7 linked regions of the Homo sapiens genome follow. The protein of the gene in region 1 purifies or fractionates together with the protein of each later gene. This does not show direct contact. Each region holds a gene or a part of one and is shown in the gene's direction. Other genes may lie near its edges. The genes, in order: GARS1, CCT8, CTNNA1, TUBA8, CPNE1, TRMT1 and SUCLG2.

Evidence for each region.
Region 2: the proteins of GARS1 (region 1) and CCT8 fractionate together in Homo sapiens (co-fractionation; one large-scale study listed by BioGRID). This does not show direct contact.
Region 3: the proteins of GARS1 (region 1) and CTNNA1 purify together in Homo sapiens (co-immunoprecipitation; 2 studies listed by BioGRID and IntAct, with this or other methods). This does not show direct contact.
Region 4: the proteins of GARS1 (region 1) and TUBA8 purify together in Homo sapiens (affinity purification with mass spectrometry, with the first as the bait; one large-scale study listed by BioGRID). This does not show direct contact.
Region 5: the proteins of GARS1 (region 1) and CPNE1 purify together in Homo sapiens (affinity purification with mass spectrometry, with the first as the bait; one large-scale study listed by BioGRID). This does not show direct contact.
Region 6: the proteins of GARS1 (region 1) and TRMT1 purify together in Homo sapiens (affinity purification with mass spectrometry, with the first as the bait; one large-scale study listed by BioGRID). This does not show direct contact.
Region 7: the proteins of GARS1 (region 1) and SUCLG2 purify together in Homo sapiens (affinity purification with mass spectrometry; 2 studies listed by BioGRID). This does not show direct contact.

The regions. Positions count from the first base shown.
Region 1 is NC_000007.14:30,615,378-30,618,877, forward strand, and holds part of GARS1 (glycine--tRNA ligase isoform 1 precursor), read left to right. Parts: intron 1-518; coding exon 519-681; intron 682-1,736; coding exon 1,737-1,901; intron 1,902-3,500. UniProt on the Homo sapiens protein: Catalyzes the ATP-dependent ligation of glycine to the 3'-end of its cognate tRNA, via the formation of an aminoacyl-adenylate intermediate (Gly-AMP).
Region 2 is NC_000021.9:29,056,649-29,060,148, reverse strand, and holds part of CCT8 (T-complex protein 1 subunit theta), read left to right. Parts: intron 1-3,500. UniProt on the Homo sapiens protein: Component of the chaperonin-containing T-complex (TRiC), a molecular chaperone complex that assists the folding of actin, tubulin and other proteins upon ATP hydrolysis.
Region 3 is NC_000005.10:138,777,425-138,780,924, forward strand, and holds part of CTNNA1 (catenin alpha-1), read left to right. Parts: intron 1-3,500. UniProt on the Homo sapiens protein: Associates with the cytoplasmic domain of a variety of cadherins. The association of catenins to cadherins produces a complex which is linked to the actin filament network, and which seems to be of primary importance for cadherins cell-adhesion properties.
Region 4 is NC_000022.11:18,127,809-18,130,020, forward strand, and holds part of TUBA8 (tubulin alpha-8 chain), read left to right. Parts: intron 1-2,212.
Region 5 is NC_000020.11:35,654,901-35,658,400, reverse strand, and holds part of CPNE1 (copine-1), read left to right. Parts: intron 1-3,056; exon of another isoform or gene 3,057-3,078; coding exon of another isoform or gene 3,079-3,500. Other genes in the region: RBM12 (RNA-binding protein 12), read left to right, coding at 3,079-3,500.
Region 6 is NC_000019.10:13,106,741-13,110,240, reverse strand, and holds part of TRMT1 (tRNA (guanine(26)-N(2))-dimethyltransferase), read left to right. Parts: coding exon 1-83; intron 84-239; coding exon 240-326; intron 327-402; coding exon 403-472; intron 473-556; coding exon 557-691; intron 692-774; coding exon 775-860; intron 861-2,381; coding exon 2,382-2,490; intron 2,491-2,590; coding exon 2,591-2,667; intron 2,668-3,500. UniProt on the Homo sapiens protein: Dimethylates a single guanine residue at position 26 of most nuclear- and mitochondrial-encoded tRNAs using S-adenosyl-L-methionine as donor of the methyl groups. tRNA guanine(26)-dimethylation is required for redox homeostasis and ensure proper cellular proliferation and oxidative stress survival.
Region 7 is NC_000003.12:67,529,113-67,532,612, reverse strand, and holds part of SUCLG2 (succinate--CoA ligase [GDP-forming] subunit beta, mitochondrial isoform 2 precursor), read left to right. Parts: intron 1-3,426; coding exon 3,427-3,500. UniProt on the Homo sapiens protein: GTP-specific succinyl-CoA synthetase functions in the citric acid cycle (TCA), coupling the hydrolysis of succinyl-CoA to the synthesis of GTP and thus represents the only step of substrate-level phosphorylation in the TCA.

The DNA.
Region 1 (3,500 bases):
AAAGACTTGCTAATGCTTTAAGGAAAACCATTTTATCTGCATGTCACTATTCAATATCTTATTTCTTATTTTTCATGTGATTTTTGCGTATGTTTTCCTAATTTAAAAAACTATATTAATCTGCCTTTAACAAGTTATTTTCAGTTAAAAGTAATAATCTTTTTGGATGTAGCTGGAGGGAAGGAATTAATACTTCAGAGAAGTTAGATCATGTTTATTTTAAATAGTGAGTAATAAAATTTTCATTAATGTGTTTAAAAATAACCTTCACATGTACCCCATAAATTTGTACAAATATAATACATCAAAAAAATAAAAATAACAACTACCCAGACAAATTTAATTCAAAATTTTTTTGGCCATTCCCTTAGGAAACCAACTTTCTGTTTAGTGAAAAAGACCACTATAGTATGGAGCCTTTATCACTAGAATGCAGTTGAAAATAGAGGCCTTGTTTTTTGTTTGTTTGTTTTTTGTAGTTAAATATGCAGGTTTATCGCTTACGTTTTTGCTTTCAGAGAATTCACAATGGCAGAAATTGAGCACTTTGTAGATCCCAGTGAGAAAGACCACCCCAAGTTCCAGAATGTGGCAGACCTTCACCTTTATTTGTATTCAGCAAAAGCCCAGGTCAGCGGACAGTCCGCTCGGAAAATGCGCCTGGGAGATGCTGTTGAACAGGTAGGATTCTGGAGGTAACTTAACTTAGATTGTGCCTGTTCAGGGTTTGCAGCAATTAGCAAATTCTATGTGTTCTGGGTGACAAGATATTTTATTTTGGCAGTCATTTGCTTTTTTACAGTACTTGGTTTTGTACAGAATTTGTTATACAGTATTATTATAGTAAGAGAAAAATCACCTGAACATCTCAATTTGTGGGCCTTGGGGCTAGCATGAAAAAAAATGTTTAGCAGAGCACTTGGAAAATAGATCTTGGTTTGCATTGTGCCTCACCAATCTGACTCAACAGTATGTACTACTTTGGGGGAGACAGCATTGGACCCACAGAAAGCAAGCCATCTGGGTTTCAGACTCTTCTGTATTACCCATAGCAGTGGAATAAGGCCTTGCATATAAGCACTTTGTAAATATTTGCCTGGAGAAGTGAGTGCGTGAAAACTTGCCAACAGTAGCTGCTGTCCACTAGTGGAATGAGTTGCCTCAGGGAGCAGTGAGCTTCCTGGCCCTGAAAATACTCCTGGCAAGGTTGGACGATAGCTTGTCAGCCACTTTGCAGAGAAGACCTCTGCAGTGTATGGAGATGGGGCTAGATGTTTTCTAAGGTCCTTGCAAACACTAAAATGATTACGTGTACTCTACGGGGTTCACAAATTTCAGTGGGTAAGGATACATTAAAATCCCCTCAACGTGTCATTACTTTGGTTAATTCAGAGGGGAATGTCTTTGCCATTCTTTAGTGTCAATTATGAATATTGTTTTTAGTACTGTAGATTTAGAGGTATGAGGTACTGGGCTGAATTTTTGCTGACCCAGTAAGTATGTTGGACAGATTTTGAATAACTCCATTATCATCATCTTGACATTAACCCATTAAAAAATAACCAAGATCTCATTCTGAGTATTTGAAATTGTTTTGAAAGCAAGATAAAATAGTTTGTGTTGGGTGTCAAATATTTTTCAGTAGAGTGAGTCAATGGAAACCGATATCTTGGCTTTGAAGAGTATTAATGTGTGTTTTCTTTTCTTCCTCCATGCTTGCTTATTGGTTGGTTTAGGGTGTGATTAATAACACAGTATTAGGCTATTTCATTGGCCGCATCTACCTCTACCTCACGAAGGTTGGAATATCTCCAGATAAACTCCGCTTCCGGCAGCACATGGAGAATGAGATGGCCCATTATGCCTGTGACTGTTGGGATGCAGAATCCAAAACATCCTACGTAAGTGGAGTGCTGTTTACCATGTGATTTTCACATTGTTAACTTAGAAGCACAGGTACCAAATGAATTTTTGTGCACTTTATGTCACAGAGGAACAAAGGGAAAAGAAAAGAGATCTTTTCCTGAGCAAAACAGAAAAAGCAGTTGCCTCCTGCCTTTTTATAAGTGTCCTAAGGAGCTCGTTGTAGTCTTAGATAGCTGAGAGACAGAGTTAGTGTATGATGGGACAGTGCGGATGTGTACACTGCTGTACAGTGTATTGGCAGCATTACTGGCAATATCCTGGAGTGGATCTAAGACACATTGGCCTCTCCTTCCTGGCAAGAGTCCCAGCAAACATTGGAAATGGTGGAGAGGTTGAATAAAGAAAGTCATAGTGCTCTTAGCTCAATGAGCTATGTAGTAGCTTTGGGGAATATACTAGTTGATTCTGATCTCTGGCTTAAGAACTACCTTCCTCAAATGTTATGTATTTAACTCAAAATTCACAGACGATCTCCAGGTACCCTCCTGCCCCTGTGCCCTGTCACCCCTCCAGCCTCCACCACCAAACATGAACATCAGTATTGAAGCGGAGGGACGAAAGGCATTTGCATATAGGAGATGCTGTCTATATTGGTGGCAGGAGGAAATGTGGCATCTAAAACAAGGCTGAGAGTCTTTTGGCATTTCTCTTATTGGGTGTTAGAGAGGCTTCCTCGCCTACATAGAAAGAGACTTTAGTCCAGGGGTCACTGGTTCCAGTATACCCTTGGTTCAGTTTTTACTTTTCAGAATGGCTTTCTTTTTATGGATTTTTAAAAATTAAAAATCAAAATTAGTCATATTTTAAAAAGTAATGACTACTTTTTTTAAAACAAAAAGGAAAAAATAATTCTGAAGACTATTATGTAGAAAATTAAACTTCCAGTTATATGCCTCTCCCCAGGTGTTTTATGTCTCTTCTCTGTATTGAGCAAACATTTTCTATAAAGGACCAGATGGTAAATATTTTTAGCTTTATGAGTCTCTGTCACATAACTTTGTTGTTTTTTACAGCTTGTAAAAAACAGCTTTTAAAAAATGTCCAAACTGGCTGGGTGTGGTGGCTCATGCTTGTAATCCTAGCACTTTGGGAGGCCGAGGTGGGAAGATTGCTTGAGCTCAGAAATTTGAGACCAGCCTGGGCAACATAGCAAGACCCTGTCTCTACAAAAAATACAAAAATTAGCCAGGTGTGATAGCACGCCCCTGTAGTTTCAGCTACTTGGGAGGCTGAGGTGGGAAGATCACATGAGCCCGGGAGGTTGAGGCTGTAGTGAGCCATGATTGCACCACTGAACTCAAGCCTGGGTGACAGAGTGAGGCCCTGTCTCAAACAAACAGACGAAAAAAGATCATGCTTAGCTCCATGGTCTTGGGTATGTCTGCCTTCTCTAGATGATTTTTCTACGTGTTCTAACACATGCATGCATAAATGCATAATAATATGCATATGTTTATAAATGGCTATTAATGATGTTGTTTTTAATATATTCTTTTTCCCTTGTGGAATTAGAAAGAATTACTGTAATCTGTTAGGATTTTCTTAGCAAGCTTGCTTGACATATGTCAAAATGA
Region 2 (3,500 bases), on another chromosome or scaffold:
TGAGATACTAAAAGATGTTAAAGGTGTTTAAAATCATATTTCTACCCTTTTTTTTTTTTTTTTGAAGAATTGTGGTAGACTGTTCTATATATAGAAGTAAACCTGAAATCATAATTATTTTTCCAAAAGGTATTTTCTGGCAAACTTAATTAAATACATTTCCCCACAAAATTCTAGAAGTAATTAATAAGCAATGACTATTTATAAGTACTTAATAGAAAATTTTAATTTGCTAGAGGGACAGTATACATCCATTAGGTAAAAGTCATATGTCATATTAAAGGTGGAGTAAGTCCTAAGTAGAAATCAGTGGAAAGACATTTCAGCTTTTAAGTACAGTAAGGACCAGTTGGTGGTAATTATAACAAATTTATTGGAAGAACTATGATAGCAAGAGATGACCAAAAATGGAACTGGATATTTAGTTTCAAGTCATTGAAAATAAGCAGAAACTAGATGTTTATGTACCAGATTAACGGGTTTCTCTGTCAGCTTATTAGGTGATTTTCAATGGAAGAATATGTTTGAGTTCTTAAATAGAAACCTAAGAAAATACTTATTCTAGAAATTAGAATGTGGCTAAGAATAAAAGGGGAAACCAAAAATAGCAGGGACGGAAGAAGCTAAGTAGACTGCAGCATAAGGAACGCAGAAATTCCAACTGTGTTAGGAACTTTGAATGTCAATTATTCAAGCAAGACAATAACCACCACCCTTGGTCACAAAGGCAGTTTGAATTTTGGCTTTAAACTAGGAAGTCTGCTTTATCTTATGGTAGGGGAAGTTGTTGGTTGATCTGTTCCCCCAGTCTTTGCACTCTATGTGAAGTATGTATCTAAAGAACCCATCCAACTGTATTAACCAGTTTGTGTATATAGTGTATAGTATAATGAACCTAAATTTGTATAGTATATATTCTAGAAAAGGAATTGCACATCAAGCTTTAAGCATTGGATAGTGTAGTACGGACTGGATTAATCTTTGTTGGAATGTCTATTTCACTAGTTCTCAAAGTATGGTCCCAAAATAGTATCAACATCACCTGAGAACTTGTTAGAATGACAGTTCTCAGCCAGGTATGGTGGCTCACACCTGTAGTCCCAGCTACGCAGGAGGCTGAGGTGGGAGGATCACTTGAGCCCAGGAGTTGAAGGCTGCAGTGAGCTGTGATCACATCATGGCACTCCAGCCTGGTTGACAGAGTGACACTCCATCTTTTAAAAAACTAAAAATAAATAAGAAATACAGATTCTTGGAGGCCAGGCGCGGTGGCTCACGCCTGTAATCCCAGCACTTTGGGAGGCCAAGGCAGGAGGATCACGAGGTCAGGAGGTTGAGACCATCCTGGCTAACATGGTGAAATCCCGTCTCTACTAAAAAAAACAAAAAATTAGCTGGGCGTGGTGGCAGATGCCTGTAGTCCCAGCTACTCGGGAGGCTGAGGCAGGAGCATGGCATGAACCTGGGAGGTGGAGCCTGCAGTGAGTAGAGATGGCACCACTGTACTCCAGCCTGGGCGACAGAGCAAGACTCCATCTCAAAAAAAAAAAAAAAAGAAGAAATACAGATTCTCAGATGTCACTCCAGACCCACCAATATCAGAAATGCTGGAAGAGGCCTAGCAGTCTGTTTTAATGAGCACTTTTGATTATGGTGCCCACTAAAGTTTGGGAACTACTTGTTTTAGTGTTTGTTTCTTTTTTTTCTTTGAGATGGAGTCTTGCTCTGTCACCAGGCTGGAGTGCAGTGGTGTGATCTCAGCTTACTGCAACCGCCACCTCCCAGGTTCAAGCAATTCTGCTGCATCAGCCTCCCGAGTAGCTGGGACTACAGGCGCATGCCACCATGCCCACCTAATTTTTTTTTGTATTTTTAGTAGAGACGGGGTTTCACCATGTTGGCCAGGATGGTCTCGATCTCTTGACCTCGTGATCTGTCCGCCTTGGCCTCCCAAAGTGCTGGGATTACAGGCATGAGCCACCACACCCAGCTTTTAGTTACTTTTTAAAATCAATGTGCACTTAGGTTCTAAAATTATGCTTAATGCCTTTAATTCAGTCTGAAATTACTCTCAATTGGTAACATGTTATTCTGAGAATTTCAGGTTTAGGTATCTTTTTTGTTGTTGTTGTGATAAGGTCTTACTCTATCACCCAGGCTGGAGGACAGTGGCACAATCATAATCAGCTCACCACAGCCTCAAAATCCTGAGTTCCAGTGATTCTTCTGCCTTAACATCCCGAATAGCTGGGACTGTAGGCAGGTGCTGTCATGGTTGGCTGAGATATATATCATATATATCTGATATGTATATATCACACATATCATATGTATATATCATACATATGTATATATCATACATATCTCATATATATCATATATATCTCATATCATACATATACATGATATATATATCATACATATATGTATGATATATATTATATATGATATATGTATGATATATGTATCGTATATATGATACATATATCATATATATATTATCAAATGTTATATATATATTTTATATATATATATATTTTTAGTTTTTGTAGACTAGGTCTCACTTTGTTGCCCAGGCTGGTCTCAAACTCCTGGCCTCAAACCTTGGCCTCCCAAAGTGCTAGGATTACAGGCATGAGCCACTGCCCAGTTCAGGTTTGCAGATGGTAATTAAGATGTTTTCCAGCCGAGCGCAGTGGCTCACACCTATAATCCCAACACTTTGGGAGGCTGAGGCGGGTGGATCATGCAGGAGTTTGAGACCAGCCTGGCCAACGTGGTGAAACCCCGTCTCTACTAAAAGTAAAAACTTAGCCGGGCATGGTGATGGGCACCTGTAATCCCAGTTACTCAGGAGGCTGAGGCAGGAGAATTGCTTGAACCCAGGAGGCAGAGGTTGCATTGAGCCAAGATCGCGCCACTGCACTCTCTAGCCTGGGCAACAGAGCAAGACTCCGTCTCAAAAAGAAAAAAAAAAAAAAAGCTAAAACCTATTTATTTTAGATAAAGTAAGGTGAGGTTTGTGGCGCTTTTTTTTTTAAGTTGGGAACTTAGATTTTTGTTTATGAAAATTCCTGGCTGCTTGAATGATTCTCATTTACAGGTTTTAGAAAATTTCAGTGTTAAACTTTGTATATACTTATGTATCAACTACTTTAGATTATAATGGCAAAGCTGGCAGGTGGGCCTAAAGCTCCTAAACCACAAGGAAATTGGGACAGAGATGGTTGGCAAGACACATCTCATATATAAATAGCAAATCAGGTGCCAAACTGACCGACTTACACCAGTGATGCATGCACATATTTTCACTTTCAGCTTTTTGAGTTATTGAAGTGCATGTCTTGGAATGTTCACTAATCTCTGTGGATTTTATTGCGGTTATCCATAAAAGCAGTAAACTTTCTCATGCGCTGAAAGTTTACAATTGAATTTCTAACAAGGGAGCTAGCAAACTCTGTGCTGTAGTGTTTTATATGCAGTACATAATTATACCAAGA
Region 3 (3,500 bases), on another chromosome or scaffold:
GCAGAGACGCTCCTCACTTCCCAGACGGGGTGGCGGCCGGGCAGAGGCTGCAATCTCGGCACTTTGGGAGGCCAAGGCAGGCGGCTGGGAGGTGGAGGTTGTAGCGAGCCGAGATCACGCCACTGCACTCCAGCCTGGGCACCATTGAGCACTGAGTGAACCAGACTCCGTCTGCAATCCCGGCACCTCTGGAGGCCGAGGCTGGCGGATCACTCGCGGTTAGGAGCTGGAGACCAGCCCGGCTAACACAGTGAAACCCCGTCTCCACCAAAAAAATACAAAAACCAGTCAGGCATGGCGGTGCGCGCCTGCAATCACAGGCACTCGGCAGGCTGAGGCAGGAGAATCAGGCAGGGAGGCTGCAGCGAGCTGAGATGGCAGCAGTACAGTCCAGCTTCAGCTCGGCATCAGTGGGAGACCGTGGAAAGAGAGGGAGAGGGAGACCGTGGGGAGAGGGAGAGGGAGAGGAGGGAGAGGGAGAGGAGGGAGAGGGGGAGGAGGGAGAGGGGGAGGAGGGAGAGGGGGAGGAGGGAGAGGGGGAGGGGAAATGTTTCTTAATCTGTCTTTTTTTTTTTTTTTTTTTTTTTAAACAGAGTCTTGCTCTGTGGCCCAGGCAGGAGTGCAGTGGCACCATCTCCACTCACTGCAAGTTCTGCTCCCCCAGGTTCATGCCATTCTCCTGCCTCAGCCTCCCGAGTAGCTGGGACTACAGGCGACCGCCACCACGCCCGGCTAATTTTTTGGTATTTTTAGTAGAGACGGGGTTTCACAGTGTTGACCAGGATGGTTTCGATCTCCTGAACTCGTGATCCACCCGCCTTGGCCTCCCAAAGTGCTGGGATTACAGACGTGAGCCTCCGCGCCCGGCTGCTTTGACATTTTTCAAGACTACAGCCAGTTATTTTGTAGATCGTCTCACGCTTTGAATTTGATGTTGCCTCATGACTAGTTGAGGTTATGTAATTTTCAGGCGAAATAACACAGAGGTGATGTTGTATCCTTCTCAGTGCATCGTGTTAGGAGATACGTGATGTGGGTTTGTGTCCTTATTAGGGACAGTAATTTTGATTACTTGGTTAAGGTGGCATCTCAGGTTTCTGGACTGTGAAGTTACTATTTCCCCCATCTGTCATAAATAAATAATCTGTTGGGAGTTACTATGACACTAGATCACGCTACTGAGAAACTGAATGCTAATCTACTTGGTTAGCATTCTTTGATTCTTGCCTGAGGCAATTAATATTATGGTTCCTGAATGCTGATTTTTCTAAATACATTGTTCTTTCTACATTTATTAGTTTGTTTCCTATTGTTTGGAAGAACTTTTCCTTCTTTATTCATATTAGCATGGACTCATGCATTAGTCAATGGATCATACTTTGTTCTATCTAATCTCCACTAAAGCTCTCTGAAGAAGGCAGTGGTTGGTAGTCTTTTATGAGGGATCTAGTTCAAAGTTACGTTTTTTTTTTGAGATGGAATCTTGCTCTGTTGCCTAGGCTGGAGTGCAGTGGCATGATCTCGGCTCATTGCAACCTCTGCCTCCCAGGTTCCAGCGATTCTCCTGGCTCAGCCTCATGAGTAGCTGCGATCACAAGCAACCGCCACTACGCCTGGCTAATTTTTGTATTTTTAGTAGAGAGAGGGTTTCACCACATTGGCCAGGCTGGTCTCGAACTCCTGACCTCAGGTGATCCACCCACTTTGGCCTCCCTAAGTGCTGGAATTACAAGCATGAACCACCATGCCTGGCCAGTTTTCACCCAGTAGTTTTGACATTCATTGCTAATCCTTGGCTGGATCAGTTTTTACCAGTGGGGGTTGCAAGATGGTCATTTTCTAATTCTATTCTAGATTCATGGTAAAGAAATTCCCTCCCCATACCCTTTCTTTTGAGGATCCCTATGGTCTTAAGGATATTTATTTAATTATTTAGTTACAGACAGTTACAGTCATTATTCTCTTTGATAGTTGTCCTAAATTTGGCTGATGGGAGCCCTTGCTTCCTGTGTCTTTTGATATGATCTTGTTAGTCTTGTCCCCTTTCCGCACAATACAGTGCTTCAGACCTGGAACTTTGGTTTCTATTAATGGGAAATGGTCCGTTTTTTAAAAAAAAAATAAGTAGAAATGGGATCTCTCTGTGTGGCCCAGGCTGGTCTCAAACTCCTGGGCTTAAGTGATCCTCCTGCCTTGGCCTTCCAAAGTGCTGGTATCACAGGCATGAACCACCATGCAAATGGTATTTAATAGAAATAAATACTTGGGCACTGATAACACTGGTTTTTTTTTGTTTTTGTTTTTTTTTTGAGACAAGAGCTTGCTCTGTTGCCCAGGCTGGAGTGCAGTGGTGCGATCTTGGCTCACTGCAACCTCCACCTCCCAGGTTCAAGTGGTTTTCCTGCCTCAGCCTCCTGAGCAGCTGGGATTACGGGCGTGTACCACCACACTGGACTAATTTTTGTAGTTTTAATAGAGACGGGGTTTCACTATGTTGGCCAGGCTGGTTGTTTTGTTTTTTAATTTGCCAACATTGTTTTTAAGAGTAACATTGTAGCCCGTTGTGTCATTGTTACATAATTTATTGAGTGATCTGTTGTTTGAAATTTAGGTAATTTATAACTTTTAATGTTTATATAAAGCAGTGTTGTGAACATCATTGTATCCCAGTTTTTACATGTTCCTTAACTTTAGAATAAGATTTTAGCAGTAGATTTTCTGGGTCATACAAATGTACTTTTTAAAGATTTTATTTTATTTATTTATTTTATTTTTTATTTTTTTGAGACGGAGTCTTGCTCTTTCGCCCAGGCCGGACTGCAGTGGCGCTATCTCTGCTACTGCAAGCTCCGTCTCTGGGGTTCACGCCATTTTCCTGCCTCAGCCTCCCGAGTAGCTGGGACTACAGGTGCCCGCCACTGCGCCTGGCTAATTTTTTTTTTGTATTTTTAGTAGAGACTGGGTTTCACCGTGTTAGGCAGGATGGTCTCAATCTCCTGACCTCATGATCTGCCCGCCTCAGCCTCCCAAAGTGCTGGGATTACAGGCGTGAGCCACTGCGCCTGGCCAAGATTTTATTTTTTTAATTTTTATTATTATTATTATTTTTTAAGATGGAGTTTTTTTCTTGTTGCCCAGGCTGGAGTGCAATGGCACAATCTCGGCTCACTGCAGCCTCTGCCTCCCGGGTTCAAGCGATTCTTCTGCCTCAGCCTCCCGAGTAGCTGGGATTACAGGCGTGCACCACCAGCCTGGCTAATTTTGTATTTTTAGTAGAGACAGGGTTTATCCTTGTTGGTCAGGCTGGTGTCGAACTCCCGACCTCAGGTGATCTGCCCGCCTTGGCTTCCCAAAGTGCTGGGATTACAGGAGTGAGCCACCACGCCCAGCCTTTAAGCTTTTAAATGTCTACCAGCAGTTTGTTGTCTAGAAAGTTTATATTAGTGTTTACCTCAGCTTCATGCCTTTTCTTTTCTTTTTTTCTTTAATAATTGAAGGCA
Region 4 (2,212 bases), on another chromosome or scaffold:
TGCCTCAGCCTCCCGAGTAACTGGGACTACAGGCGCCTGCTACCACACCCGGCTAATTTTTTGTATTTTTAGTAGAGACGGGGTTTCACCGTGTTAGCCAGGATGGTCTTGATCTCCTAACCTTGTGATCTGCCCGTCTCGGCTGGGATTACAGGCAGGAGCCACCGCGCCTGGCCTCCAACCTAAAGTTAGTTTTAATGGATATTTTACACTTCTTTGTACAGCATGATTTTGTGGCCATTTTAATTTTAGAGTTAACCAAATTATTCCAGTTGCCAGAGGAGTATGATGCCTCTCTCTAACAAAAAGCTGTGTTCTCCCAATTTATTTTGAAAACTTAAAATATCTATCCTGCACATCTTAATCAATTTGGAGTAATAAGATACTTTTATAGTTGTTCTATGATTGCTATTTTCCATTGCCATTAACCAGGAGTAAGCAAAAACCAGCAAGCCGTGTGGCTGGTGGTAACCAAGTGCCCGCAGTCTGGAAAATGCCAGGCTCAGAGAGTCAGTGGGGAGATACAAAATAGCGAGGGTAGACCCTGGGGCCCCAGGACCAGGAATGCTGAATGGTAGAAGTCACCCCTCTGAGCTGGACCGGCAGGCAAGCAGCCTGGCTGTGCACATGAACAGCTCAGCCACTCCACCCATGGTCTTTTGTCAGATTCTGCCATCATAACAGCTACCACATTCACATTAACTACTGCCCTGTAGTCAGGATTTCTTTTTTTATTTTTTATTGTATTTTTCCCCTGAGATGGAGTCTTGCTCTGTTGCCCGGGCTGGAGTGCAGTGGTGCAATCTTGGCTCACTGCAAACTTTGCCTCCCGGGTTCAAGTGATTCTCCTGCCTTAGCCTCCCAGGTAGCTGGGATTACAGGCATGCACCACCACGCCTGGCTAATTTTTGTATTTTTAGTAGAGATGGGGTTTCACCATGTTGGCCAGGCTGGTCTCGAACTCCTGACCTCAGGTGATCCACCTGCCTCAGCCTCTCAAAGCATTGGGATTACAGGCGTGAGCCACCAAGCCTGGCCCCTAGTCATGCTTTCAATCATTCAGAGGTTTTACTGGTACCTATTGTGTGTCAGGGTTTGTCTCAGTTGCTGGAGGTGAAGAGATGAGCATGCCTCAGTTTTCTTGGCGGGAGTTACAAGTGTGAGGCACCAGCTGCGTGCTGGCCTCATAGCTGCCCTGCATGGGTCTGAGGCTTTGACCTGGCTGTTCTGCTGAGTGAGGAGTGTAGCATTCCTTTTCACTGCTATCCTTCTAGCTACATATATAATTTCCCCCCAAGACTATGCCTATTTTTTATGTGACAGTTCTAATCATCCTGGCAAAACCAGTCAAGGTCTTCCAAAAAATGAAATTCTTTTTTCTTTTTCAAATGGAAACAAACAACCAGCTAGTAGGAGAATGAATGGGGAAAAAAGAGAATGAATGAGAGACATGGTGGGTGATGGGGAAATTAACAAAGCGGAAATGTCCCCTCATTCTCTCTCCTTAAAGCAGAAGCTCTGGAGTTATGTCCTGAAGGATCATTATGGTAGCATTAGCATAAGCTAAGAAAAGTATGTTCCCTGGAGAGGATGCTGCTAAACTTCATCTTCTTGCATTCTCTCCAACAGTACTTGTCCCCACTTGACTCAGGTCAAGAGATGTTAGCACTTAGAGGAGAACAGGTTGGCCCAGGCACAAGGTTTATGGCAGTCGGCTCAGTTCTAGCAATGTATGTGATGTGGCCAAATTCATATACATTGCCTTTCCCTTCCCCACTTTGCCCCTCTCCCAGTATCACCTCCACCTCCAAGATGCCACCTGTGCCTAAGAGGAATGACGGCTGCTGTGGGTCCAGTGGCTGCCTGGCTACCCATGTTGCCACACAGCTGGCTGCCATTCCCACACCAGCCCCTCAGGAGGATGTGCATTTTAAAGCTATGGATTTAAGAGACTGGCGATTAAAATGTGGTGGTCTCAGTGGGAGAGGTGGCTGAGGACATCACTATAGTTCTCATAAGTAATGTCACGGTTTGCCACATTAGACTTGTCCCAGTTTCCCATGGTTCCTGGGGTTGGCTTTGGTTTGGGACGTGTGTTGGGAAGAAGAGAGATTTCCAGGATAGCAGCACCACTGTAAGACGGGTCTGGGCTGAGCCTGGGAGACCTGCCATGCTGCCAGAACTTGGCAAGACCTTCAACAACCTTCTTGGA
Region 5 (3,500 bases), on another chromosome or scaffold:
AATTTCATTTATATGGATCTATTTATCTTGTGATTTTCCTGATAGGCAGTAAGTTTTATTCCTTAGTAGCATTTTAGACTAATTACAAATACAGATGCTTGTTATTGATATGTTTATTTATATTTCCTAAGAGTTTAAGTATAGATAATGGGTCACATGTTTTAGAGTACAAATTTTAGACTTTAAATGGAACCTTAGCAAGTGGAATCTAACCCTCTTGTTTAAGTAACTAAGATAGGCCCAAGTTAGGTTGAAATGACTTAGCTGTCAAACAGTTACTTAGTAACAGAAAAGCAGATACTTTTTTAAATTTTTTTTTAAATTTTTATTTGTTTTATTTATTTATTTCTTTTTGAGACAGAGTTTCGCTCTTGTTGCCCAGGCTGGAGTGCAGTGGCGTGATCTCTGCCTCCCGGGTTCAAGTGATTCTTCTGCCTCAGCCTCCCTAGTAGCTGGGATTACAGGCACCTGCCACCATGCCCAGCTAATTTTTTGTGTTTTTAGTAGAGACGGGGTTTCACCTTGTTGGCCAGGCTGGTCTTGAACTCCTGACCTCGGGTGATCCACCCACCTCATCCTCCCAAAGTGCTGGGGTTACAGGTGTGAGCCACCGCACCTGGCTGCGGATATTATTTCATATTTTTTGGAAGCTAGAAACAATTTTTCTCATCAGATGGCTTTATGAATAAATCTTGTATTCCACTTTGGTTTAATATTCAGCCCTTTCCAGCTGGTAATCTGAGGCAGATTTTCAATAGCATATTCTCATGTGTACCTTGTACAAACTTTCAGTAAATCCCTGCTCTTAACAGAAAATGGCTTGAAGACTTAACTGTGTATGTCACTTTAGCCCTGTGTTTAATTTTTGTGTTCTTGGGACTATATCAAGTTTCTGTTTGATTGTCCCAGTGCAAACTAGTCTCTCTCTCTCTCTCAAGTTGTTTTGAGTACCTGGATTGCCCATGATGTTTCCCCTATACAAAGTGATTAACCGTTTTTTGAAGTTGAACAGGAAATGCTATCACATTTTGCATACAGCCACATATTCTAGATTGAGCAAGGAATGTGAATTTGATTTAATGACTTGGAAACTGCTTGATGAACCTCCTTATAGGCTGCTAAATAGTAAATGAGAAAAGAGACTGTTGGTGTGATGTTTTTTAGCGTTAATTTTTCTTGTTGACTCTTGAAGTTTGTAAATGAAAAGCTTCCCCACACTTCCCAAATTTCTAGTGCTTTATAATGGCCTCACAAAAAGCATTTTCTGTTTGCTAGTCCATTTTTCTGGATTAAATTTGAAGGTGGCTTTTTATTTTTGTGTATGTGTCTGTGAGAAAACTGTCAAAGCCAAGCAGTTTGTTTCTTGTTTGTATACGGCAGTTGTAATATTGAGATATAATTACAGATTTTGTTGCATTAGTATTTATATAATATTTGACAATGAAGTTACAGAATTCTTAGAGCTTATAGTAGAAAATCTTGCCCCTTCTAATATTCTTGAGAAGTGATAAAACCAAATCTCTTCATTAATTTATAACCTTTCTGAGGGTCATGAGCTGATTTTATGGGCTTATATTTAAAAGTTGACTTTTCAGGTGGGGCGCAGTGGCTCACGCCTGTAATCCCAGCACTTTGGAAGACTGAGGAGGGTGGATCACCTGAGGTCAGGTGAAATCCCATCTCTCCTAAATACAAACACTTAGCCAGGCATGGTGGCGCATGCCTGTAATCCCAGCTACTTGGGAGGCTGAGGCAGGAGAATTACTTGAACCTGGGAGGTGGAGGTTGCCGTGAACCGAGATCGTGCCGTTGCACTGCAGCCTGGGCTACAAGAGTGAAACTCTGTCTCAAAATAAATAAATAAATAAAAGTTGACTTTTCAGATGGGTTGGAAAACACCCTATGTTATTGACCACCTTAATTTCAAAGTAGTATGTTTCCCAGGCCCAATAATTCGGTTTGTGTCACTTTCCAAAGGGCTGCCCTTGAATTTGCTCTTAGAAGCCTTTGGAACTGAAATACTGAAATTTGAGGGGAACATTTCTTTTTTGATTATGTCAAAACAGGCATGATCTAAGGAGATCACAGAGATCCTGTAGGAGTTGTGTAGGTCCAAGACTGTAACAACCACTGAGTAATTCACACTCTGGTTCTAAAACAAAAACAAAAAATATTTTTATTGTCAGCCCTCTCCTAGGGGAAAATAATACTTTAAAAAATTTTATTAAATAGAGGATTTGGTTATGAGTCATTGGACCTGAGTTTTAATTAAAATAGTCACAGTGAATGGGACTATAACCAGGTTCTACTTTTGGGGGTAATGAATCAAGGTAACTCAGATTTTAGCTGTCCTATTCAGTAGTTCTTTTGGCTTCTTAGTATGTCTTAACCTTGTTTATAATAAATAATTCCATATGTAGTTTTTTGTAATGTACAAGGCAGATTGAAAAGTTTTAGGATGAATAAAATAATGGAACCAGTTCTCATTTAAGACTTGAATCTACTTTTAGTCTTAAGTATTATTTACAATTCATTAGTATTCTAGTTTTTTGCTTCTGTTGGATGGATTTTGAGACTGAGCTCTATAAAATCACACTCTTGATAATTCTATGAAATTATCAAGTATATAGGGAAGATGCTAAGCCAGTTTTAAATACTAACTTCTATATATTCTTTGCATGTTTTTTCCCTATAGATTGTTAAACTTTGTTTCCTGATTTGACTTAGACATTTCTTTTAAATCTTACTGAATGATTAGTGGTCTGAATGATGTATATGTATTTTACTGTCCTACAGTTGTTTTTTCTTGAACTTTTTGAGTCTTGGGACTGAACTGTTTCCAAAATTAATGCCTTCTGGAAGTTGAAATTGTCTACGTTTTACATTGTAAATGGCACGTAATGTTCAGTTTTTAGAATATCTAAATTAAAGACATTGCCTGTGATAGCTTGAGGGAATATTTGAGGGCCTAATATGGTAGCTGGTCATTCTTGTAGCTAAAAACTTGGTGTGATAAACAGGAGTCTGACCTGGCCGTTGCCTTTTCTCATCTGCAGGTGTGTGTGGTTTCAGCGCAGCATGGCTGTGGTCATCCGTTTGCAAGGTCTCCCAATTGTGGCGGGGACCATGGACATTCGCCACTTCTTCTCTGGATTGACCATTCCTGATGGGGGCGTGCATATTGTAGGGGGTGAACTGGGTGAGGCTTTCATCGTTTTTGCCACTGATGAAGATGCAAGGCTTGGTATGATGCGCACAGGTGGTACAATTAAAGGGTCAAAAGTAACACTATTGTTGAGTAGTAAGACGGAAATGCAGAATATGATTGAACTGAGTCGTAGGCGTTTTGAAACTGCCAACTTAGATATACCACCAGCAAATGCCAGTAGATCAGGACCACCACCTAGCTCAGGAATGAGTAGCAGGGTAAACTTGCCCACAACAGTATCCAACTTTAATAATCCATCACCCAGTGTAGTTACTGCCACCACTTCTGTTCA
Region 6 (3,500 bases), on another chromosome or scaffold:
CTGCTCAGCATCAGCGCTGACTTCTACGTGCGTGTTTTTGTCCGTGTCTTCACCGGCCAGGCCAAGGTCAAGGCCTCAGCCAGGTCAGCCCGGGGGCAGAGAGCGGTGGTGGATTGAGAGAGGAGACAGGACCTTGCCCTGGGGGATCTGGGGCTTCTTAAGGGACAGAGCCAGTCTAAGGGAGGAGTTGGGGTGTCGTGGTCACGCTGGGAACTCGTGGCCACTGGTACCCCCCACAGCAAGCAGGCGCTGGTGTTCCAGTGTGTGGGCTGCGGGGCCTTCCACCTTCAGCGTCTCGGCAAAGCGTCAGGAGTCCCCAGCGGCCGGTGAGCAGGGAGGAAGGAGAAGAAGGGGAGTCCCAGGGTTTTCCTCCCTCCCCACCAACCACCCCTCTCTGTTTAGGGCCAAGTTCTCTGCAGCCTGTGGTCCCCCTGTGACCCCCGAGTGTGAACACTGTGGGCAACGACACCAGGTAGGGCTAGGCCAGGGGAGGCAAAGGAGCAAGAGGGTCTTGAAGGTCATAGTCCCTGCTCACCTGTCCCCGGTGCGCCCCCAGCTTGGTGGCCCCATGTGGGCAGAGCCCATCCATGACCTGGATTTTGTGGGCCGTGTCCTGGAGGCTGTGAGCGCTAACCCCGGCCGCTTCCACACCTCGGAGCGGATCCGAGGGGTCCTGAGCGTCATCACTGAGGTGAGAGCCGGGCTGTGACGGGGAAGGGGGCTCCACCTGTGCCCGTCCATCTCCACTCATGCCCATCCTGTCCCCCATCGCAGGAGCTCCCGGACGTGCCTCTGTACTACACCCTGGACCAGCTGAGCAGCACCATCCACTGCAACACACCAAGCCTCCTGCAGTTGCGGTAAGAGCCCCTGGGGTCGGGAGGAGCCTGTCCCAGACCACAGGGTGGCCTGGGGCAAGTCCAGGGATTCTCATGCATAGAACTTGCGAGGGGGTGGGGAGAACCCGGTGCACTGTCTCATTCCTGTAATCCCAGTACCTTGGGAGGCTGAGGCAGGAAGATCACTTGAGGCCAACCTGGGCAACGTAGTAAGACCCTATCTCTAACAAATAAATAAATAAATATATATGTACACACACATACATATACACACACATACATACGTATGTATACACACACACACACACACACACACCCATTAGCCTGGCATGGTGATACATGCCTATAGTCCTAACTACTCAGGAGGCTGAGGTGGGAGGATCATTTGGGCCAGGAGTTTGATGCTAAAGTGAGCTATGATCATGCCACTCCAGCCTGGGTGACAAAATGAGACCCTGTCTCTTTAAAAAAAAAAAAAAAAAAAAAAAATTAGGCCAGGCTTATTGGCTCATGCCTATATTCCCAGCACTTTGGGAGGCTGAGGTGGGCAGATCACTTGAGGTCAGGAGTTCAAGACCAGCGTGGTCAAAATGGTTAAACCCTGTCTCTACTAAAAATACAAAAATTAGCTGGGTGTGGTGGCACATGCCTGTAGTCCCAGCTACTTGGGAGGCTGAGGCACGAGAATCACTGGAACCTGGGAGGAGGAGGAGGCGGTGGTGAGCCAAGATTGCGCCACTGCACATCAACCTGGGCAACAGAGCGAGACTCCATTTAAAATATAATAATAATAATTAGAAAAAGAAAAAGGCCAGGTGTGGTGGCTCATGCCTGTAATCCCAGCACTTTGGGAGGCTGAGGCGGGCGAATCACTTGAGGCCAGGAGTTCGAGACCAGCCCGGTCAACGTGGCGAAACCCCATCTCTACTAAAAATACCAAAATATTAGCCAGGCGTCATGGCACATCCCTGTAATCTCAGCTACTCAGGAGGCTGAGACAGGAGAATTGGTTGAACCTGAGAGGCAGAGGCTGCAGTGAGCCAAGATTGCATCATTGCACACCAGCCTGAGCGACAGAGTGAGACTCCACCTCAAAAAAATAATAAATAAGAAGGCCAGGCACGGTGGCTCACTCCTGTAATCCCAGCACTTTGGGAGGCTGAGGCGGGCGGATCACAAGGTTAAGAGATCGAGACCATCCTGGCCAACATGGTGAAACCCTGTCTCTACTAAAAATACAAAAATTAGCTGGGCGTGGTGGCACATGCCTATAGTCCCAGCTATTCGGGAGGCTGAGGCAGGAGAATCGCTTAAACCCAGGAGGCGGAGGCTGTGGTGAGCCAAGATTGCGCCATTGCACTCCAGCCTGAGCGACAGAGCGAGACTCCATCTCAAAAAAAAAAAAAAAAAAAAAAAGAAAAGAAAAGAAATGAACTCTGTAGCCATGAGCCCTTGCCGAAGGTAGTCTTACCTACGCTGGTCAGCTTGGGCTTTGGGGTCAAGGAGTCCGGCATCTCCCTCATAATCCCTGCTGTTCCCCAGGTCGGCCCTCCTCCACGCTGACTTCCGGGTCTCACTCTCCCACGCCTGTAAGAACGCTGTGAAGACGGATGCCCCTGCCTCTGCCCTCTGGGACATCATGCGTTGCTGGGTGAGGGCAGGGCTGACCTCATGCAGGTGGGAGGGCAGGTGGTGGTCACCTGGAGGTCCCTTGGGCCTAGTATTCCCTAACCTCTGACCTCTGCCCCCAGGAGAAGGAATGTCCGGTGAAACGGGAGCGACTATCAGAGACTAGCCCAGCGTTCCGCATTCTCAGTGTGGAGCCCAGGTAGGGGCAAGCACATGCAGGAGCGGCCAGGGCTGCCCACAGACATGGAAGCACATGTGTGTGCAGACAACACAGATGCTGCCCCACACAGACTCGTGCCCATTCTTCAAGTGAGATTCAAAATCTGCTGACTGGGGCTGGGTAGGTGGCTCACGCCTGTAATCCCAGCACTTTGGGAGGCTGAGGCAGGTGGATCACCTGAGGTCAGGAGTTCAAGACCAGCCTGGCCAACATGGTGGAACCCCATCTCTACTAAAAATACAAAAATTAGCTGGGCATGGTGTGGTGGTGGGTGCCTGTAATCCCAGCTACTCAGGAGGCTGAGACAGGAGAATCGCTTGAACCTGGGAGGCAGAGGTTGCGGTGAGTCTAGATCGCGCCATTGCACTCCAGCCTGGGCGACAGAGCGAGACTCCATCTCAAAAAGAATAAAAAAATAGCTGGGTGCGGTGGCTCATGCCTGTAGTCCCAGCACTTTGGGAGGCCGAGGCAGGCGGATCACGAGATCAGGAGATTGAGACCATCCTGGCTAACACAGTGAAACCCTGTCTCTACTAAAAATACAAAAAAAAAAAAAAAAAAATTAGCCGGGCGTGGTGGCAGGTGCCTGTAGTCCCAGCTACTCGGGAGGCTGAGACAGGAGAATGGCGTGAACCCCGGGGGGCAGAGCTTGCAGTGAGCCGAGATAGCGCCACTGCACTCCAGCCTGGGTGACAGAGTAAGACTCCGTCTCAAATAAATAAATAAATAAATAAATAAAAATAAAAATAACTAAATCTGCTGACTGGGCTGGGCGTAGTGGCTCACACCTGTAATCCCAGCACTTTGGGAGG
Region 7 (3,500 bases), on another chromosome or scaffold:
GGTTATTTTCAGAAACTCACTAAGAAAGGAACAAAATTTAGTGAAGACGTTGCATACTTAGGCTACTGCGTATAAAAATAGCAATTAAGAGCAAAGACTTTGGAGTTATCCAGACCCAAGTTATACCAACTCAGAGTCCAATAATATAATTATCAATGTCTAGGTTGTTGTCTACTTCTATATAAAATCTATTTTATGCCTGTAATCCTAGCACTTTGGGAGGCTGAGGTGGGCAGATTGCCTGAGCTCAGGAGTTTGAGACCAGCTGGAGCAACATGGGAAACCTCATCTCTGCTAAAAATACAAAAAATTAGCTGGGCATGGTGGCATGTGCCTGTAACCCCAGCTACTCAGAAGGCTGAGGCAGGAGAACCGCTTGAACCCGGGAGGCAGAGGTTGCAGTGGGCCAAGATCACACCACTGCACTCCAGCCTGGGTGACAAAGTGAGACTCTGTCTAAAACAAAAAACAAAAATAAAACCCCAACTCATATTAGAGTTAATTTTTTCCTCTGTCCTTTTAGCTTGTTTTTCTAAAGGATGGTTAAGTCGTCTTATTCAGACAAAAATTGCATTTCATATATGGGATTTTTTTTTCTTTTCTAATACCGTTCAGGATTGGGGCAAGAGGCAATGTTAAATAAAAACAGAAATTTGAGTTTTGGGAGAGATCAGATCTTTAAATAAATAGAAACAGTGACATTTAGTACATGTGAATCAATTTGGTAAATACTGAATGAAGAGACGAGTTACTGTTGAGTGGGATTTGTCATCTTAATTTTCAGCACCTTGAGTAAATAAGCCTTGAATTAAATTACTTCATGAGAGTTTTTCTCAAGATGAGAAAAACTTGCTTTACTTTGGGCTGCTGACTTGCTGACTTACTATATTGATTTAGCACTTGAGATGTAATCAGAAGAGATGATTTTAGTGAACTCATTTTTGGCCTGGGGTGTATGTTGCAGATGTGCGTAGGTTGTTGTCTTTTTCTATTTGTCCTGATCTCTGGTTTCATAGTCTCTGAACTGGTTGCTTGTTCTACCAACACTGTTTTGCATGGAATACTTTGACTGGAGGTCAAATGGCGACACGTTTAATTGACAACACTTCATTGAGGATACAACTCTTTCTGTGTCTTGATGGTTAGTGACTAAAGCTGATCTAATCAAGCCTATGTAGTGCCAATTAACAATGCCCAATTAGGTATTCTCTCTGGCTTTCAAGTTTTGCTGCTGGAAAGCTCAGAGAGGAAAGCATCTCTTCAGGATGACAAGGATATGAAAAATGATAATGGCAATGGAATGCCAGTTATGTAAAGAATTTGAAGTGATCACAATTAAAAATTTGAGTAGACAGCAAAAAGTATTTTTTCCACTTGATGTCTTCCAAAGAAAAACAGGAAATGTCTTCCTGTGTGCCATTTTTTCTTAATTGCTGAAAATTATTATAATGTTGATAGCTATCATATTTTGACTTTAAAAAAATGTGCCAGGCACTTTACTGTATTTCATTTATTCTTCACATCATCCTTACACTGTAGACTTCTTTAATATGACTACTTTACAGAAGGGCATGCTACTTTTACCTTTCTGAATCTCAGTTGTTTCTTCTCTACAAAGAAAGTGATAGGTAGAGTTGGAGATTTTAACCAGGTCTGTTTAACTCCAATATCCTTGCTCTTACTACTGTTCTTGCAGTAAGCTAAATATGCAATGTATTCATTTTACTTGGTTGCTTTCCTTGTGAGTTTCTGACAATTAATTTGTCTTCTACTCAGCTTGATGGAAACCAGTTTATTATAAGACAGGGCTTGACCAATGTTGTGATGGTTCGTATCCAGGGCAGAAATTATTGCCAGAGGGTACACAGGACAGCCTTCTAAGAAAAAACTGTGTTTGCTTCTGAGAAGAAGGTGGGCTTCAGCTTTCTGAGTGTAAGCAAATATAGGAGACAAGAAGACTAACCAATGAAGGCAGTGAAGGAGCCTCAATGGTGTGACATCAGCTGGCTGAATGCCTTCTGTAAAATACTTCTGTAGCTCCCCATTGCCTTGATGATAAAACCTTCCACAGCTCTTTCCGTTTGAACCTTTACCTGCTTGCCTGTGGGTAACAATGATGATGACAGTGACAGTAATAGCTGAAATAACCAAACTTAATGGAGCGCTTGTTAGTTTTTTGGTTTAGCCATCTCTGTAATGATTCCTTTCATTCTTTACAATATACAAAGGTAATAAATGAACTAACTGGTCGAGGCAATAGTTTTTAATTAATCACAAGTTTTCAGGCTCTGGGATAAAGCATTCATGTGTGTTCATTTAATTTTTAAAACAACCCTTGTCATCATTTCACAGTTGAATAAACCGAGTTTCAGAGACATTAAGTAACTTGCCTAATGTCACACAGCTGGGTGAGGGATGAAGGCCAGATTGAAACCTGGGTTTGCAGATTCTAAATCTGGTATACTGAACCAGAATACTCTCATGGCCTTATAGGGGATCAGCTGGGTTCTGTGATTTTAAATAAAGATGACTCACAAACAGAGGATATCAGCTGTGGTCTGCAGTTGTGTGCTATTTGGTTTATTAAACATATTTGATTTGGAGGCAGTTTTTTGTTTGTTGTTGTTTTGTTTTGTTTTGGTGGTTGGGGAGGGGAGCTACCCTGTTTGCTAAAGGCCCCATTTGTCACTGGGCTACTTCATGCACCCAACTTCCCTGCAAGGGAAGATATTTGTGTTAATAACTCTCGTCTAAAAAGTCAAGATTAGAGAGTTCTTTCATTCGTGGAGTGTGATGAGAAACAAAGATTCCACAACCACTTTCCCCCAGGATATTTTGTTACCTTGCCAATGATTTTAAAATATTGCTTGCTTTTAGTTTTAATCCATTTCCTCCTCCCTTTCCCAACCCTATCAGTATATAGAACAACTGCTCAGAAAACTGTTGGTTTCCAATAATGCAGTTATTAACTATGACCTTTGTGTCTTGTCTTTAAACCTTCCCCCGCATAATCCAGTCTTCCCTTTGACATCTCTGATGGTTAGCTCCTCTTACTGGCCAACTGGTGCCTCTGCCACATGGGAGTGCCATTACACAGTAAAATTAATACCTCCTTCCAGGATTTATTTAGCTTCTTCTGACACACTCAAAAGAGCAAGGGAACACATGTCTTGCTTTCCCTTGGGAAGGTCAAGTATTAGATGATTAAACTGGTAGGAAGCATTTGAATATCCTCAGTAAACAAGCTTTGTATTTAGGCTCATAGATGTTTTTTTGAAGTTCTTCATTGCATTTATTTTCAAAGTTAGTTTGAGAGAGCTTTTACCAGTTACTTGGAAGTTATGTGCCATTATTGCTTTCCTTATTGCTTAAAAAACAAAAAAAGAATTTAAAATCAGCTACCAACTCTGGATTTTTCTTTTTCAGATGCAAAAGAAATTGTTTTAAAAGCCCAGATCTTAGCTGGAGGAAGAGGAAAAGGTGTCTTCAATAGTGGTTTG